4 linked regions of the Homo sapiens genome follow. The protein of the gene in region 4 purifies or fractionates together with the protein of the main gene of each other region. This does not show direct contact. Each region holds a gene or a part of one and is shown on either strand. Other genes may lie near its edges.

Region 1 (4,111 bases), on a different chromosome or scaffold from region 4:
TGAGAGCAGAGTCAATCTGACAGTCCTGCTCTGACTAGTTGGTATCTCTTGGTGCCTCAGGCAGGCCTAGTGGAGAAGGAACACAGTCATATGGTTGGGTATACACATTTTCGCTAAAGGGGACATTAACGACACCATGACCATAGGTCCCAAATTCTCTGGCAGTGTCTCCATTCACATCATTTCCCCCAGTAATGGCAGATCATTAAATACATCCAGGAGTGTGATTTGATTTTTATGCTTTTGTAAGATTTCCTCAGCAAGTCAATTCACAAATGTGAAGGAAACAAGCACTTGTCACACTGAGCAGAATGCATATCTGGAAGGCATAGTCACCAAGCTCCCAGATAAAGGTTTAACAAAAGGTTGGAGTGCTATCTATTTCTCAGATTGACAAAATAGCCCCAGATGGCTTTGTCTATAAGCTGCAGTTGAGCAAGAAGCACACTGGCCCCCTGCCTCCCTTCTCCTCTGGTAGCTGTGATTTGTTATGGGAGTGGTAAGAGGAATAAAAGGCAGTATGTCACCGTTAGCTTCCTCTAGCTTGAGGCTTCTGTTTACATTAGTTGCTGAGATCCCCTCTGTGTCCTCAGGGTGTGTGTTCCATTAGAAGAGGGTACCTCCTTTTAATAGAACATAACAATGGGGAAGGCAAACACTGCCCCCAGGATAACAGCTGAGAGCATCTTACACACATCAATCGGCACAGGGAAGAACACTGTGAGCAGTTTTTACAAGGAGATGGGGCAAAGGAGAGAAGAAAAGAACAATCCCAAAGGCCAGGGGGCTGTTTACCTTCCCATAGATCCACCGTCTGAAAGATGTCGGTGGTTCTGACACCATAGGTCTCCGCAGCTTTTAGGAACTGGGAGATTTGCTCCATCTGCTTAAAAGCCATCTTTGACTCTGAGATCTTGGGTATGGGCTCTTGTCCTGGTGGGTATAAACTATTTATCAGCTTGCACAGGACCTGAAGAGGGAGGGGAGAGACAGAATCAATGTTTCCCTTTGTATTTACAGGTCAAGAATGAGAAGTGAATCCTGCTCACGTGGGACACTGCTCATCCAGTTTGGGCAGGAGCAAGTCATGGGCCCTAGGAAGGCACGGGCTCTGGGCTGTGTAGCCAGGCTCCTATACTAAGCCCCAAAGACCCAGAGGACCCCATTCCTAATGCTGCTCCTTACTACAGAGATTCCTGTAGCCTGGGAGCGCCATTCCCTCCCTGTTCCTCCCTTCCTTTTTCTGGATGAGGGAAAGGATGTTTACAGATAGGGAATGATGTGACGTGATGAGGACGTGATTCTAGACTTTCAAAGGAGGAATGACTTAGTGGCTCCTGAGGTTGGCAGAGCTCAAATGATAGAGTCTAATATTATTTCTTCTATCAAAAGGCAAATTAAGCAGGCTTCAATTTACTCATCCCATATATTTTAACAATGTGTAAAAGAAGTGGATGTGGTACCTTTTTCCCAGATATATATATATAACCCAAGCTCTGGGCAACCCAGCAGAAGCATTGGATAGCAGTTATGTAACAGTAAATCACAGACTGCAGGAAAGGATGGGCTTGTTTGAATCACAGAGCCTGCGGCCCTCAAACCCTCAAACACACACGAGCATTTGGTCAGAAATGCAGTTAACAAATAAGGACTCCTTTCAGTTTCATGAGAACGCATCCACTCAATAAACAGACACTGAACACTTCCAGGGTGCATGGCTCCCACAAGAATGTGAAGGTGGCTAGTCCCCCTCCTCCCTTCTTTGTTTTACTGTGTAACCAACACGATCCCCTAGGGAAAGAAATGGCCCCAGAAGAGCTGATGCACCAGGAAGGCTGGGGAAATTACAAGGACATACTTATCTCTATTCTCATTAGAAAAATCAAAAGGGCTTCGAATTTGCCAACTCAGAAGGGAGATGTAATGCTAGGGTGAGTGGAGAACCCCCAAGCTAGCTAGGGAATAGTGCATGGAGCCCAAATCTTCCAACCCTGAAGAAATAAAGGCATTCTCATCCCCTCCCGGTGAGACATAGAGCTTGGCAACAGCAGCTCTTCCCGCAGCCTTACGTTAAAAGAAAGGGCCCTGGAGGGTTTCCCTGCCCACCGCCCCAGCAACCGAGATCGCTGCCGGCCTTACCGTCCCGTCCATTAACCATTTCTGAAAATGGGCCCTGCCGGGGGGCGGGTGCTCTATGTCCTCGGCGCACTGCAGGATGATCCAGTCCACCAGCTTGTTCTCCAGGTCCGCATCATACTTCTGCTCGATCTTCTCCTGCACCTCTCGGCTTAAGCCATAGCTCGGGCCCCTGTTAGCCATCTCTGGAAAGAAGAGAAGACACGCGCGGCATCCACACAATAGCAGCAGCAGCAGCCTCCGGCTCCCTGCAGACGGGGCTGGGATATGGCTGGGCAACCTGGCCCAGCAGCAGCAAAGAGGGCAGAAAGCCGGGCGTGGTTTAAATCAAGGAGCCAATGAAGCCAATGGGGTTTCACCTACAAACGGGAAAGAAAAGCACAGCTACCCGCCAGTAACTCTAGAATAAACCTCCGGCCGGTCCAGGGGGGCTGGAATCCCCCTCCCTATCCCGCCTATCAATGAGACCAGATGATATAACACGGACTCACAATCAAGTCTGAACCCCCAGGCAGCAAGGGGGATGGGTGGCGGACGTTTCTTCCCCCTTCTCAGTAGCACTTTGCAAAGGCAGAAACGATGAGATCGGGAAGAGCAGGTAATTAGCAGGCAGGGAGGAAGCCTCCTTTCATGTTGAACTGCAGCCGCTGCTGCCTCGCGCCTGGAAGAATGGCACATTGATTTGATTTTCTCATGGCTGAGGGGGCTCAACCAGGGCCGTTGCTAAGAGCCCTCCAAAAAGCCAGCCCTCTCCTGTGTCAATCAAGCCCGCCTGCCTCCCTCCCGCTGAGAGCCTCTTTCTCATCTGCACAATTCTTTCCCTCTTCTGGGGAGACAGCCGATTGTCTACGAGGCCAGCAGCTGCACAAGGGGATGAGGGCCTGTGGGAGGGTCCGTTCTACCAACTGTCCATCTGTCGGGAATAGCCAAGCTACTTTCCCCCTGCCCTGAGGTAACAACTGTCTGGCAGGACAGGAGGGGAGGGACTGAGAGCTGCTATCATTTACTTGTTCAGCTGCCAGCCCAACTTCACCCAGAAACTTCCATCCTGAAACTGTTGTGCCTCAGTTTGACTTATTCAAGGGAGGTATTTTTTTCATGCTACTCTTAACTGAAAGACACTAAGAACAAGTTTTATAAATTATTATTATAATTCTTACTATATATTTTTAGACAGAGTCTCGCTCTGTTGCCCAGGCTGGAGTGCAGTGGCACAATCTCGGCTGGCTGCAACCTCTGCCTCCTGGGTTCAAGCGATTCTCCTGCCTCAGCCTCCCAGGTAGCTAGGATTACAGGTGTGTGCCACCAGGCCTGGCTAATTTTTGTATTTTTAGTGGAGATGGGGTTTTGCCACGTTGGTCAGGCTGGTCTTGAACTCCTGACCTCAGGTGATCTGACTGCCTCGGCCTCCCAAAGTTCTGGGATTACAGGCATGAGCCACCACGCCCGGCAAGTTTTATAAATTAAACAAAACTCAACGACTAAGAACTCTTAGAGTGAAAGGTTTTGATAGAATGTAAAGACTTCATCTGAAGTAAGGACCGTGAAGGCACAACCGACATATTGTCAGAAGTAACTGAATATTTCTCATGGGCAAACAAGCACTCAGGAGAAACCATTAGCTCTAAGTTGGCCCCACATTTTTATAACAGCTAAAGGGCTTGGCAGTTTGTCCTCCTAGACTGTAAGCCATTTGTGGGTAAAGATTGAGTCTCATTGGTGTTGTGTAATTCTCTGGGTGTTTTTCATGAGAAAAATTCCACATTTTTTTTCGTTTGGTTCATTTCTTCATTCAACAGATATTTACTGAGTGTTTATGCCAACTACTGGACTGAGGAGGAATAAAATACAATTCTTGCATTGAAAACAGATTGATAAATTGACTCAAGCATATTAAATAAAGCAATTCTGGGTACATGGGATGATGATCTTTGTCCCTGTGGGAAATTGATTAGAAGCTATGCAGGAAATGACT
Region 2 (3,187 bases), on a different chromosome or scaffold from region 4:
GGCTGGAGAAGGGCTTTAAAGGGAGGCCCTCATGCAAATATGTCGGGTCCTCTTCATTGCAGCATCGCGGCTGAGTCAGCAGCTCTGGCACAGCTGACCTGCAGTGCTGCCTCCAGCCCAGGAGAGAGGATGGGCCCCTCCCCTAATTTGGCTTGGTTCTACCCAGACTTCAGCCCTGGGAGTTGGGATGGTAAGCTGCCTTCAGTGAAGGGACAGGATAGAGAGGGGCCGTGGAGAAACCTGGCTGAGAGAACTCCACTCAGTGCAGCCTCCCCACACCACAAGCCACAGTCCTGGAGAGGGCGCTTCTCTTCCATGTCTCTACCCAGGATACCCTGGAGAGGCCCCGATCCTCAAACTCAGGACTTATGTTTCCATACCTGTTAGCTGAATGTCTGTAGATCATTCGTTCACCACCACACAATCTCTCTCTCTCTCTCTCTCTCTCTTTTTTTTTTTTTTTTTTTGAGACGGAGTCTCGCTCTGTCGCCCAGGCCGGACTGCGGACTGCAGTGGCGCAATCTCGGCTCACTGCAAGCTCCGCTTCCCGGGTTCACGCCATTCTCCTGCCTCAGCCTCCCCAGTAGCTGGGACTACAGGCGCCCGCCACCGCGCCCGGCTAATTTTTTGTATTTTTAGTAGAGACGGGGTTTCACCTTGTTAGCCAGGATGGTCTCGATCTCCTGACCTCATGATCCACCCGCCTCGGCCTCCCAAAGTGCTGGGATTACAGGCGTGAGCCACCGCGCCTGGCCTTTTTTTTTTTTTGAGACTGAGTCTCACTATGTCGCCCAGGCTGGAGCGCAGTGGCATGATCTCGGCTCACTGCAGCCTCCATTTCCCAGGTTCAAGTGATTCTCCTGCCTCAGCCTCCCCAGGAGCTGGGATTACAGGCGTGCCACTATGCCTAGCTAATTTTTGTATTTTTAGTAGAGATGGGGGTCTCACCATATTGGCCAGGCTGTTCTCGAACTCCTGACCTCAAATGATCCACCTGCCTGGGCCTCCCAAAGTGCTGGGATCACAGGCATGAGCCACCGTATGCAGCCACCACACAATCTCTTATGATTATAGTCAGAGCCCCCAAAAGTGACGGCAGGCTCCAAGCCCAAATGCTGGTGCTCCCTTGACCCATTATCCTGCCTGTCCCTCCCCATCCCCCATCAAGGCAGGGACCAGCAAGGATGTCACATCAGACTGAGAATCCCAGAGGGAAGTAAGGCCTGGATTCCCTTCTTCCCACCCAGTTCCTTTCTACCACCCTGAGGTGAGACAGGAGGAGCTACAATCCTCTTTGGGTGGGTAGTGACAGGTACATAGCTACAGCTCCATGGAGGCTGGCACCCAGGCCCCTTCTAAACTCTGGGAGGGGAAAGCATTACCAGGCCTTCTGTCTCACTGCTGCAGCAGGAGAGACTCTGGAATGCACTTCAGACCAAAGACCTGGCCCTGGTTCCAGGGTGGTTGCTGACTGGCAGCCTGGCATTGGTCCAGCTGCCTGACCTGTGGGGCCAAGGTGTGCCCTTGTGTCCATCCACTGACATAAGATCCAGCGGGTGTGGCTGAAACGATGGCATCATTATGAAAGCAGAGAGGAAGGAATGATGAGAGTAGGGAAGGCCCTCCATTCCCTGGAGGTCCAGAGAATTCCTCTTTGCAAGGACAGGCTTCCAGGCTTCCTGGAGGTATTGAGGTTCTCAGCCAGCTGGAGGGAAAGCCCTATAAGAGTTAAGGAGGAAGACTCTGCCTTGACTCCCAATTCAGGCCCAGATCAGACCTGCCCTAGAAATCCAGGGATCCTCTCTGCCCCTTTCCTGAAACAAGTCCTGTATGATTGGAAGGGGGCGGGGGAGGGGGAGCGTGGCAGGGATGAGGCGAGGCTGGAGGCCAGGTTTCTGGGTCTGCTGATCCTCCCCCACGGGACTGCCTCACCTCCCTCCCTTCTCATCCTCTCTCTCCTCTCGCCCTCCCTCCCGTGTCCCCCACCCGCAGGTGCGGGCCAGTGCTATTGCCCAGGACGCGGACCAGAACTACGACTACGCCAGCAACAGCGTGATCCTGCACCTGGACGCCGGCGACGAGGTCTTCATCAAGCTGGATGGAGGCAAAGCACACGGCGGCAACAGCAACAAATACAGCACGTTCTCTGGCTTCATCATCTACTCCGACTGAGCTCCCCACGTCTCCCTCCACCCACGTCCCTCACCCGCCGGGGTCCCCTCCGGGCGGGGCAGACGATGACTCGCCCCTCGCCCACCCGCTCGCTGCCCGGCCCTCCCCGGCTATGACGCCCCCGGCCCGTGCTCAACACCGCCTGGGCCACAGCTAGGCCCTCCCACCGGCTCGCTGCAGAGCCGGGCCCAGCGCGCCCTGTCCCCGTGCCAGGGAACCGGGGTTGACCGCCCCCGCCCAGCCCGCGCTATATATTTGTACAATAGGACTGTTTACTGCCCACCTCCGCCTGCCAGCCCACCCCAGCCTGGGGAGAGGTCGCGGCGGCGGGTTTGCTTCCTGCGCTCTGAGATGAGCTGCCCTCCGCTCCCTCCGGGGTGGCGCGCCCGGGGGAGGGGGGAGTTGGGGGCTGGATAGCTTCCCAGCACCCTCAGAGCCCCCGCCCGGCTGTGCCCCGTCTGACCAAAGTTATAATAAAAACATTTTCACCCCGCAGGGGTTTCAGTCTGTGCCCTGGGGAGGGCTGCGGGAGGCGACGGTGGACCGTGCCCTCCTCCAGATTAGGAAGGGGTCTGGTGGAAGTTTCTAGGGGAAACCAGGTGCCAGAGCCAGAGCTACTCCAAGAAGAAGTTGCCAAAGGGCCTAAAGCCCACCACAACCCAAGTGGGCCTGGGCAGCTGGGATGGGAAGCAGCCCAGTTACTTCATCATCTTCCATGGTGGACACATTCCTTTTTTTTTTTTTTTTTTTTTTAGACGGAGTCTCGCTCTGTTGCCAGGCTGGAGTGCAATGGCAAGATCTCGGCTCCCTGCAACCTCCGCCTCCCGGGTTCAAGCGATTCTCCTGCCTCAGCCTCCCGAGTAGCTGGGAATACAGGCGCACACCACCACGCCCAGCTAATTTTTGTATTTTTAGTAGAGATGGGGTTTCACCATGTTGGCCAGGCTGGTCTCAATCTCCTGACCTCATGATCCGCCTGCCTCAGCCTCCCAAAGTGCTGGGATTACAGGCGGGA
Region 3 (3,631 bases), on a different chromosome or scaffold from region 4:
TGTGTGGATTTTATTCTACTGATTATGTAGATATTGGGAGTTTGAGCAGTTACAGAGACTACAGACCTCGCGGGCTAAGCCTGGTTGTATTATTAAGGGCAGAAGAATGCAGTGGGACTTACGGGTTTGAGGTACTAATGAGGTCCCCCAAGTCAAGAGGAGGCTCATTATGTACATGTGGAGGTCAAGAAGCCAGAGTGAAGCTGCCCAAACAGGGTACCCTTTATGTTTTCAAATTCCTGTCTATCTCCCAGTGTATCCCTACTGTTGGACAATAAGTTTTTGGGGGGTTTTGCTGTTTTAAATAATGCTATGCTGAACATCCTTGTAACTTTTCTGATTAGTTTTTTTAGGATAAATTGCTAGAGATGTAATTCATTGCTGGACCACAGGGCCAAATATAAATCCTAATACTTAAAAATATGTGTGTGTGTGTGTCTGTGTATGTGTAAATGTATAGATATATACACACATATATACACATACACATATATACACATGTGTATATATGTACACGTGTGTGTATATATGTATATATTTTTTTTCTCGAAAAGATGTACAAACAGTTAAAAAAAAATTCAGACAGTACAAATACGGGATGTCCAGTGAATAAGTCTGCCTCCCACACCTGGCCCTCCTTCTGCAGGCTTCACCTTAAGAGAAAAATGCTGTTACTAGGTTTTTGTGTATTTGCCCAGAAATATCCTATGTTTATATAAACATGTATGTTTCTATTATTTTCACTCTCTTTCTCTTTTTTTTTTTTTTTTTTTTTTTGAGACAAGGTCTGGCTCTGTCGTCGTCCAGGCTGGAGTTCAATGGTGTGATCTTGGCTTACTGCAACCTCTGCCTCCCAGGCTCAAGTGATCCTCCCACATCAGCCTCTCTAGTAGCTAGGACTACAGGCGTGCACCATCACACCCTGCTAATTTTTTGTATTTTTTGTAGAGTTGGGGTTTTGCCGTGTGGCCCAGGCTGGTCTCGAACTCTTGAGCTCAAGCAATCCGCCAACCTTGGCCTCCCAAAGTGTTGGGATTACAGGAGCCATGAACCACCACACCCAGCCCACCCTCTTTTTTTTTTAAACACAAATGGGAACATCTTATATCTACACTTTAAAATAGTGCTTCCCATTTCTTTGTATGGCTGTGTGATATATATGCCCAGTCCTGAGCTGGTAATGACACACTCCAGGGCTGCAAGGTCTTTATTGAGCAACCACAGAGTGCAAGGCACAGGATTAAGGCTGCCTCTGCGAAAGCAACACGATGTCTTAAACTGGGCTAGTCCCCCAGAATGCTTTGCAGTCTCCCGGGGAAAGGGGATTTGTAGCGCGCCTGGGACCCAGTGGGCCCCTAGTATCCCAGGCAGGAAGTAGAAGAGGCTGTCAGACCCTGGGGTTGTGGTGGGGTCAGGAACTCTTCGCCCCACTACCCCAGCAAGCACCCAGTATCTACCCCAGTACTCCCGGAGGGAGCTGGTCTGCCCGAAGTGAGTGTGCCATTGTATGCAGGGGCGGGGGCCACAGACTCAAGAGGCCTGGGGGAAGCTGGCTTCACAGGTGAAGGGTGAGGGGTAGGGGCACGTCTGTGCCCGGCACTGGAGCAGAATGCTTGCTTTCTCCTGGATAGCCGACTAGATTGTCTCCTTTTTTTCTTTCCTTTTTCCCCAGAGGCTCATCCAAAATAGAGGAAGCATGCGAAATCTACGCCAGAGCAGCAAACATGTTCAAAATGGCCAAAAACTGGAGTGGTATGTCATCTCCGCTAGAGCTCCTCCAAGGTGCTCTCCTCCTCCCTCAGCTTCCACTCACACAGGCCTGCCCGAGAGGTTGGCCTTGAGGGCCCTTTCTCTTTGTATGCCCTCTCCGGCATCGGAAAGCCACTGGCCTGCTCTCTTGTTTTGTGCCTGCTGGGTTACTTTATACTCTGGGTCATGGGGCCTTGGTGAAAGGACAGAGAGGATGGGAATAAATAGATTATTAGACCTAGATAAACCCATGTGGATTGATGAGCTCTTAGAGTCCTCCTTAAATTCAGAACTTCAGGTTTCCTGGTAACTTCCTTAGTGCTTCCATCAGTGTCTAAATTCTAGGCTGGGGGAGGATGTTCAGGTGATTCCAATAACAACGTGAATCATGGCTGCTGTTTGTTGAGTCCTAAGTGCTCATCATTTAATTGCGTTAGCACAGCAGCCCTAAGGGTCAGTCTATAAATATCCCTATTTTACAGATTTGGAAACTGAGGCTTGGCTTAGTCTCTTGCCCAGGATGCCAGAACTAGTAAGTGACAGAACCAAGATTCAGAAACCAAGGCTCTGACTGCAGAGCCTGAGTGTTTAACCTGCCCCAGTGAGGCAGGATAGCTTCACAGAGGAGAGGGGTGGGGAGGAGCCCCTTGGGCTCAGGGAGGCTGGAGATCTGTTTGGAGCTCCCTGCAGGCCCAAGAAGTCCAACAAGCCAGTGTGTTGAGCCCTTTCGAGGCTCATTTCATCATACATCTTTCATGTCACCAAGATTGAATTAAGGAAATACGGCAAGAGACCCAGTGTTTGAATGCAGGGAGGAACTTCTGACTGTGGAGGAGAGGGAACCTGGTGGTGGGACCATGGAGGCAGGGTGCAGAGGTGCACAATAAAATTGATTATCATCGTTTTTGAGAATGTTGTTGGTTTCCCCAAAATTCAAAGAGTTATTCCTGAGTTTTCACAAAATACGTTGTGAATAAAGCCAAATGTTTTTTGTATTTTTATGCTCCCAAACTTAGAAAATTCCTCTAGAGAAAAAAAGCTTATTTTTTAATTACATAGGTGTTGCTTTTCCCCTAAAATTTGTTACCTCTGCCCCCAAACTCTTCAAAGAAAAGCCCTAGGCCATTTCCCCCCGGTAATATCCCCTTTTCTTGAAATTTTTTTTTTTTTTTTTTTTTTTTTTTTTTTGAGACAGTCTTGCTCTGTTGCCAGGCTGGAGTGCAGTGGCGCGATCTTGGCTCACTGCAACCTCCGCCTCCCTGGTTCAAGTGATTCTCCTGCCTCAGCCTCTTGACTAGCTGGGATTACAGGCACGTGCCACTACGCCCAGCTTATTTTTGTATTTTTAGTAGAGACAGAGTTTTACCATGTTGTCCAGGATGGTCTCCATCTCCTGATCTCGTGATCCGCCCACCTCGGCCTCCCAAAGTGCTGGGATTACAGGCATGAGCCACCGCGCCTGGCCGTAATTTTATACTCAAATTTGGAACTCTTGAAAATAATGAAATCATATAGTGAAAACCCGGAAGGCTTTGTCTTTTCTGCTGCTCAAAACTTAAGAGGATAGGGCCAGGCCTCCTGGTCCTCTTCCAGCTTAGAAACTCTGACTCAGATTCAGCTGGAGGAGAATGAAGGGGAGAAGCCTCAGAGCTGAGCTGGAGGTGGTCAGCTGCACGAGGAGGAGGAGAGATGCTGCTGCCTCCCAAACGTCAGTTAGGAGATGTGTGGGCAGAATGGCTTGGGACCCACAGAAGCTGACCGTGTGCAGATGAGCACAGGATGGATGAGGCTTCAGGCACGGTCTCTTCTGCCCTCCGCCCATGGGCACTGGTCTGCATGTATTCATTCTTGCTGTCCACATCCTGTTTCCCTCTCTGGACAT
Region 4 (3,631 bases):
ATATCACATCCTCAGTTGGAGGCTCCTTGTCAGCACCTCTTCCTCTGGCTGTACCATCTCCTGTGACTGTTCTGTTCTGGATAGATCTCTCTGTTGAGCCCATGATGGACCTTCTCCCTTTCACCCTTTGTATGAGCCATTTCCCACTTCTTTGTCTTGGATGAGCAGTTTTCCTTTTGTTCCATCCAGAGTGTCTTGCGCTCGTTCTGTGGACGAGCCCCAGCAGACCTGAGCCAGCACTCACTATGGGTGTATGTGGCATTGCGAGGGTCTGTCATGTGGACACAGCCATAAATGGTTGTGCATTTCTGCCTGACAGTTTTTGCACACTATTCTTCTAGTGCAGTTCTTATAAATGTCCTGCTTCTTGGAAGTTATTGGGACCTTGAGAGCAGGACCTGCCTCTTGTTTTTCCATTGCATTCCAAATTATGCATTCACCAAAATGTAAAATTGACTGTATCCTGTGGAAAAACCCCCCAGAAAATTCACCTGTTTTGGTGAGCCAGGTAGCAAACAGATGGAGCTTTCATGGTGATGATAATTCATAATTATCAGTATTTGTGCTCATTTATAGAGTGTTTGTTACTAGGGATGGGAGGGAAAGGAATGAAACCAAGAAGCAATGTCTACTTAATGTATAAGCCCAGAGGTCACTTTCCACTGTGTTGGGGACAAGGTGATAAGAAGTAGGCAATAAATACATTTTGTGTTTCTTAGCGTTCAGGAATTCATGACCTTCACGAGTCAACTGATTGTGGAGCGCTCATCGAAAGGCACTAGAGCTTCTGTCAAAGAACAAGGTAAGAAGACCCTCCAACTTCTGTGCGTGTGCTGGCCTGGCTGCCATGCCTCACCTCACATAGCACCCAGCTTTCTCCTTTCTACTGGGACCCTACTCCTCCTCTAGCTTGTTCTCTCTTTCCCACCTCTTCCTTTTCCTATTTATGCAGAATTCTGTGCCCACTGTTGAAGTCTGAGCTTCCCAGATAAAATTGCCCTCAAACTTAGACTCATTTAAGATTAGGGTCTGACTCTTTTGGAGCAGTAAGCAGCCTTCATATCGTATTCTTCCCTATCCTCTTCAGAGTTGCAGACCCCTCAAAAAAGGATTTCCAGCTAGCACTGTTGAGGTACTATATGTATTCTGTGCATCGTAGATTTTTTGATCAGGAATCTGAAAAAACTATTTTTTCTTTCTGATAATTCAGGTTTAGGCATTTATTTAGATGTGTATGTTATACAGACAGATCAGGAAAGAGTTACATGAGTTTCATCAGGTAGGGACAAAGATCATCTCACACTTATGCTAACCTCAAGTCACGTGACATAGAGTTACTGAATTGATGATATAAATGTCAGTTATGATACAGGCAGGATTGACTATATACACTTTATGTGGGATCTCTGTGCTATTAACATCATAGAAGTGAAATCGCATCACAAATATTTCAGTGTTCTTGCTCTGTTCTTCAAACTGTGCCTGCCCTTCCCACGTTTATTACTTAAAGACAATTCCTCCACTGACCAGGTTCTCAGTTTCTTTGGAGGGTATGCACTTTGACCCCATGTTTGAATCTTAATTGGGGATGGTATACAAAATCTGGAGAGCATTGGTGACAACCCCCTGTCCTCTTCCTCCTCCTCATTCTTGTTCTCATTTATCTCTGCTCTTTTCTGATTTCAGGGGCTCACCATCATTCCCTCCTCTTTTATTTGTTTTTCTGTTGTTTAGCATTGGAATCTTCTGGGTCAGATCCTTAAGGACAAGAAGGTTCTTATTTGTAAGCTGTAATCCTTACATTTCTCTTTCCTTGGGGATATGGTTAGCTGTATCAACTCTGAATCCTTTCAAAGTGATGGAAATGAACAATCCTGTGGATTGTGAATATTTTGCGGAAGACCTGTACAACTGTACCTTTCAATCATATGAGGATTTTAGCACAGTGCTCTGGAGGCCTTAGCTGGCAGTAGCTAATCTTTTTCTAGACTAACCCCCCTACTCCCAGTCACCCACCAGAGTGGAGCAAACCCAGCAGGTTGCTATAATATGGAAGACTGAGGCCCTGGGGGGTAATTTCCTGTCTTTTGGCTGCTCTGAAAAGATTTTTTAAGAAAGCAGAGGCCTCTTGGCTTGTCCAGGGTTCCCTAAGTTTGGGAGCAGCACAGAGCCCCAAGGGCTCCAGATCCCTAAGATATAGCTTGGCCTGACCCGAGCTTAAGGAATACACTTGGAAATGCTCCTGGGGCCATGTTGTCAAGGGTGTGTTTTCTGCACCACTGGCTGTTTCTTTAAGCCCTGGCTTTGCATACTGGGCCTCTGGGTATTTACTGGTCCTAAAGCAGGCGTTGGGCCAAGCTCCTGTGTGTGGCCCATTGGGCTGTGCTGCTAAGCCTCTCCACAAGACTTGCCCAGAGCTATTGAGCTTCCGAGTGGCTTCATTTGGCCTAACATTGGATGCTTTGATTTGGGGGGATTAAAAGAAGTCTGAAGCCCTCATGTCAGCATCCATGTGTCTGATCTCTTGTCTCCTTAGACTATCTGTGCCACGTCTACGTCCGGAATGATAGTCTTGCAGGTGTGGTCATTGCTGACAATGAATACCCATCCCGGGTGGCCTTTACCTTGCTGGAGAAGGTGAGTTTTTTATTTGCCTCTCCTGGACTTGGATGATGAATGGGCACATTTATGGACTGGGACAGGGGTTGATGGCAGTCCCTGAGACATAAGGGATGAAATGATGTGTCCAAAGTCAACACATTTTTCAGCCCCCTTCCCTGCAACCCAAGAGACAATTTGGCATCCCTGTATGGGTTTCCTCCCCGGTGCTGTCCCTCATGTGAGCTGGGTCTAGGCCACTGAGTCATAGCATCTATTCTCTGGGATGGGACCCTCGGAGACAGCTGTGCCTTGTGTTCTCGCCCCCTGTGCTTCTGCTCAAGGAGTCTCCCTCTTGAATGCCTTCACTCTCCCCATTGCCTCCTGCAGTTGCTGCATCCCTCTACCTTGATGTCAGTCAGTTGCACCACAGAGCTTAGCACCTAAGCATTCTTTAAATTTTTTTGCGTACGGTGCTAATTACTAATATTAACTCTTTGAAGTCAGAGGCTTCATCCTATACCCCAGAGCACCAAAATACCTCCAAACACATGGAATCTGGTGGTTTCTTAAATCTAGGGGACCTAATTCTCTTTTTTAAAAAATTGCTTTGGAAAATTAGAGGACCAGTGCCCCTTTTTTCTGGAAATCTGTAGTTTAAAATTCAAATACCTTTATTACTCCCCAAGTGAGGTTCATCTCGGGCTGGGCATACTTTTGATTCTCAGAATATTTAGGATATGTTTTAATGATAAAAATTTGGAAAGAACTTTAGCCTAGATTTTCTCTGTTGCCATTATATGTCCCCCTCATTCCTCCTTCCTGGGCTGTGAAGGCCAAGGAGCCTCATTCAGGGTGAGGTGCTCAGGGGTGAAGCCCTGTCATTGAGACCACTGGTGAGTGCACAGTGGGAGGCTTGTTGAGTCTCCTTTGTCTTGCAGGTACTAGATGAATTCTCCAAGCAAGTCGACAGGATAGACTGGCCAGTAGGATCCCCTGCTACAATCCATTACCCAGCCCTGGATGGTCACCT

The links. Proteins that work in one complex are often made in the same cells at the same time.
Region 1: the proteins of YKT6 (region 4) and TAGLN3 fractionate together in Homo sapiens (co-fractionation; one large-scale study listed by BioGRID). This does not show direct contact.
Region 2: the proteins of YKT6 (region 4) and C1QL1 purify together in Homo sapiens (affinity purification with mass spectrometry; 2 studies listed by BioGRID and IntAct, with this or other methods). This does not show direct contact.
Region 3: the proteins of YKT6 (region 4) and NAPA purify together in Homo sapiens (affinity purification with mass spectrometry; 2 studies listed by BioGRID and IntAct, with this or other methods). This does not show direct contact.

The regions. Positions count from the first base shown.
Region 1 is NC_000003.12:111,997,631-112,001,741, reverse strand, and holds the start of TAGLN3 (transgelin-3), read right to left. Parts: upstream 2,821-4,111; 5' UTR 2,628-2,820; intron 2,496-2,627; exon of another isoform or gene 2,322-2,495; 5' UTR 2,320-2,321; coding exon 2,140-2,319; intron 971-2,139; coding exon 796-970; intron 1-795.
Region 2 is NC_000017.11:44,959,173-44,962,359, reverse strand, and holds the end of C1QL1 (C1q-related factor precursor), read left to right. Parts: intron 1-1,992; coding exon 1,993-2,172; 3' UTR 2,173-2,667; downstream 2,668-3,187. UniProt on the Homo sapiens protein: May regulate the number of excitatory synapses that are formed on hippocampus neurons. Has no effect on inhibitory synapses.
Region 3 is NC_000019.10:47,501,544-47,505,174, reverse strand, and holds part of NAPA (alpha-soluble NSF attachment protein), read left to right. Parts: intron 1-1,672; coding exon 1,673-1,752; intron 1,753-3,577; exon of another isoform or gene 3,578-3,631. UniProt on the Homo sapiens protein: Required for vesicular transport between the endoplasmic reticulum and the Golgi apparatus. Together with GNA12 promotes CDH5 localization to plasma membrane.
Region 4 is NC_000007.14:44,203,849-44,207,479, forward strand, and holds part of YKT6 (synaptobrevin homolog YKT6), read left to right. Parts: intron 1-719; coding exon 720-802; intron 803-2,536; coding exon 2,537-2,637; intron 2,638-3,539; coding exon 3,540-3,631. UniProt on the Homo sapiens protein: Vesicular soluble NSF attachment protein receptor (v-SNARE) mediating vesicle docking and fusion to a specific acceptor cellular compartment. Functions in endoplasmic reticulum to Golgi transport; as part of a SNARE complex composed of GOSR1, GOSR2 and STX5.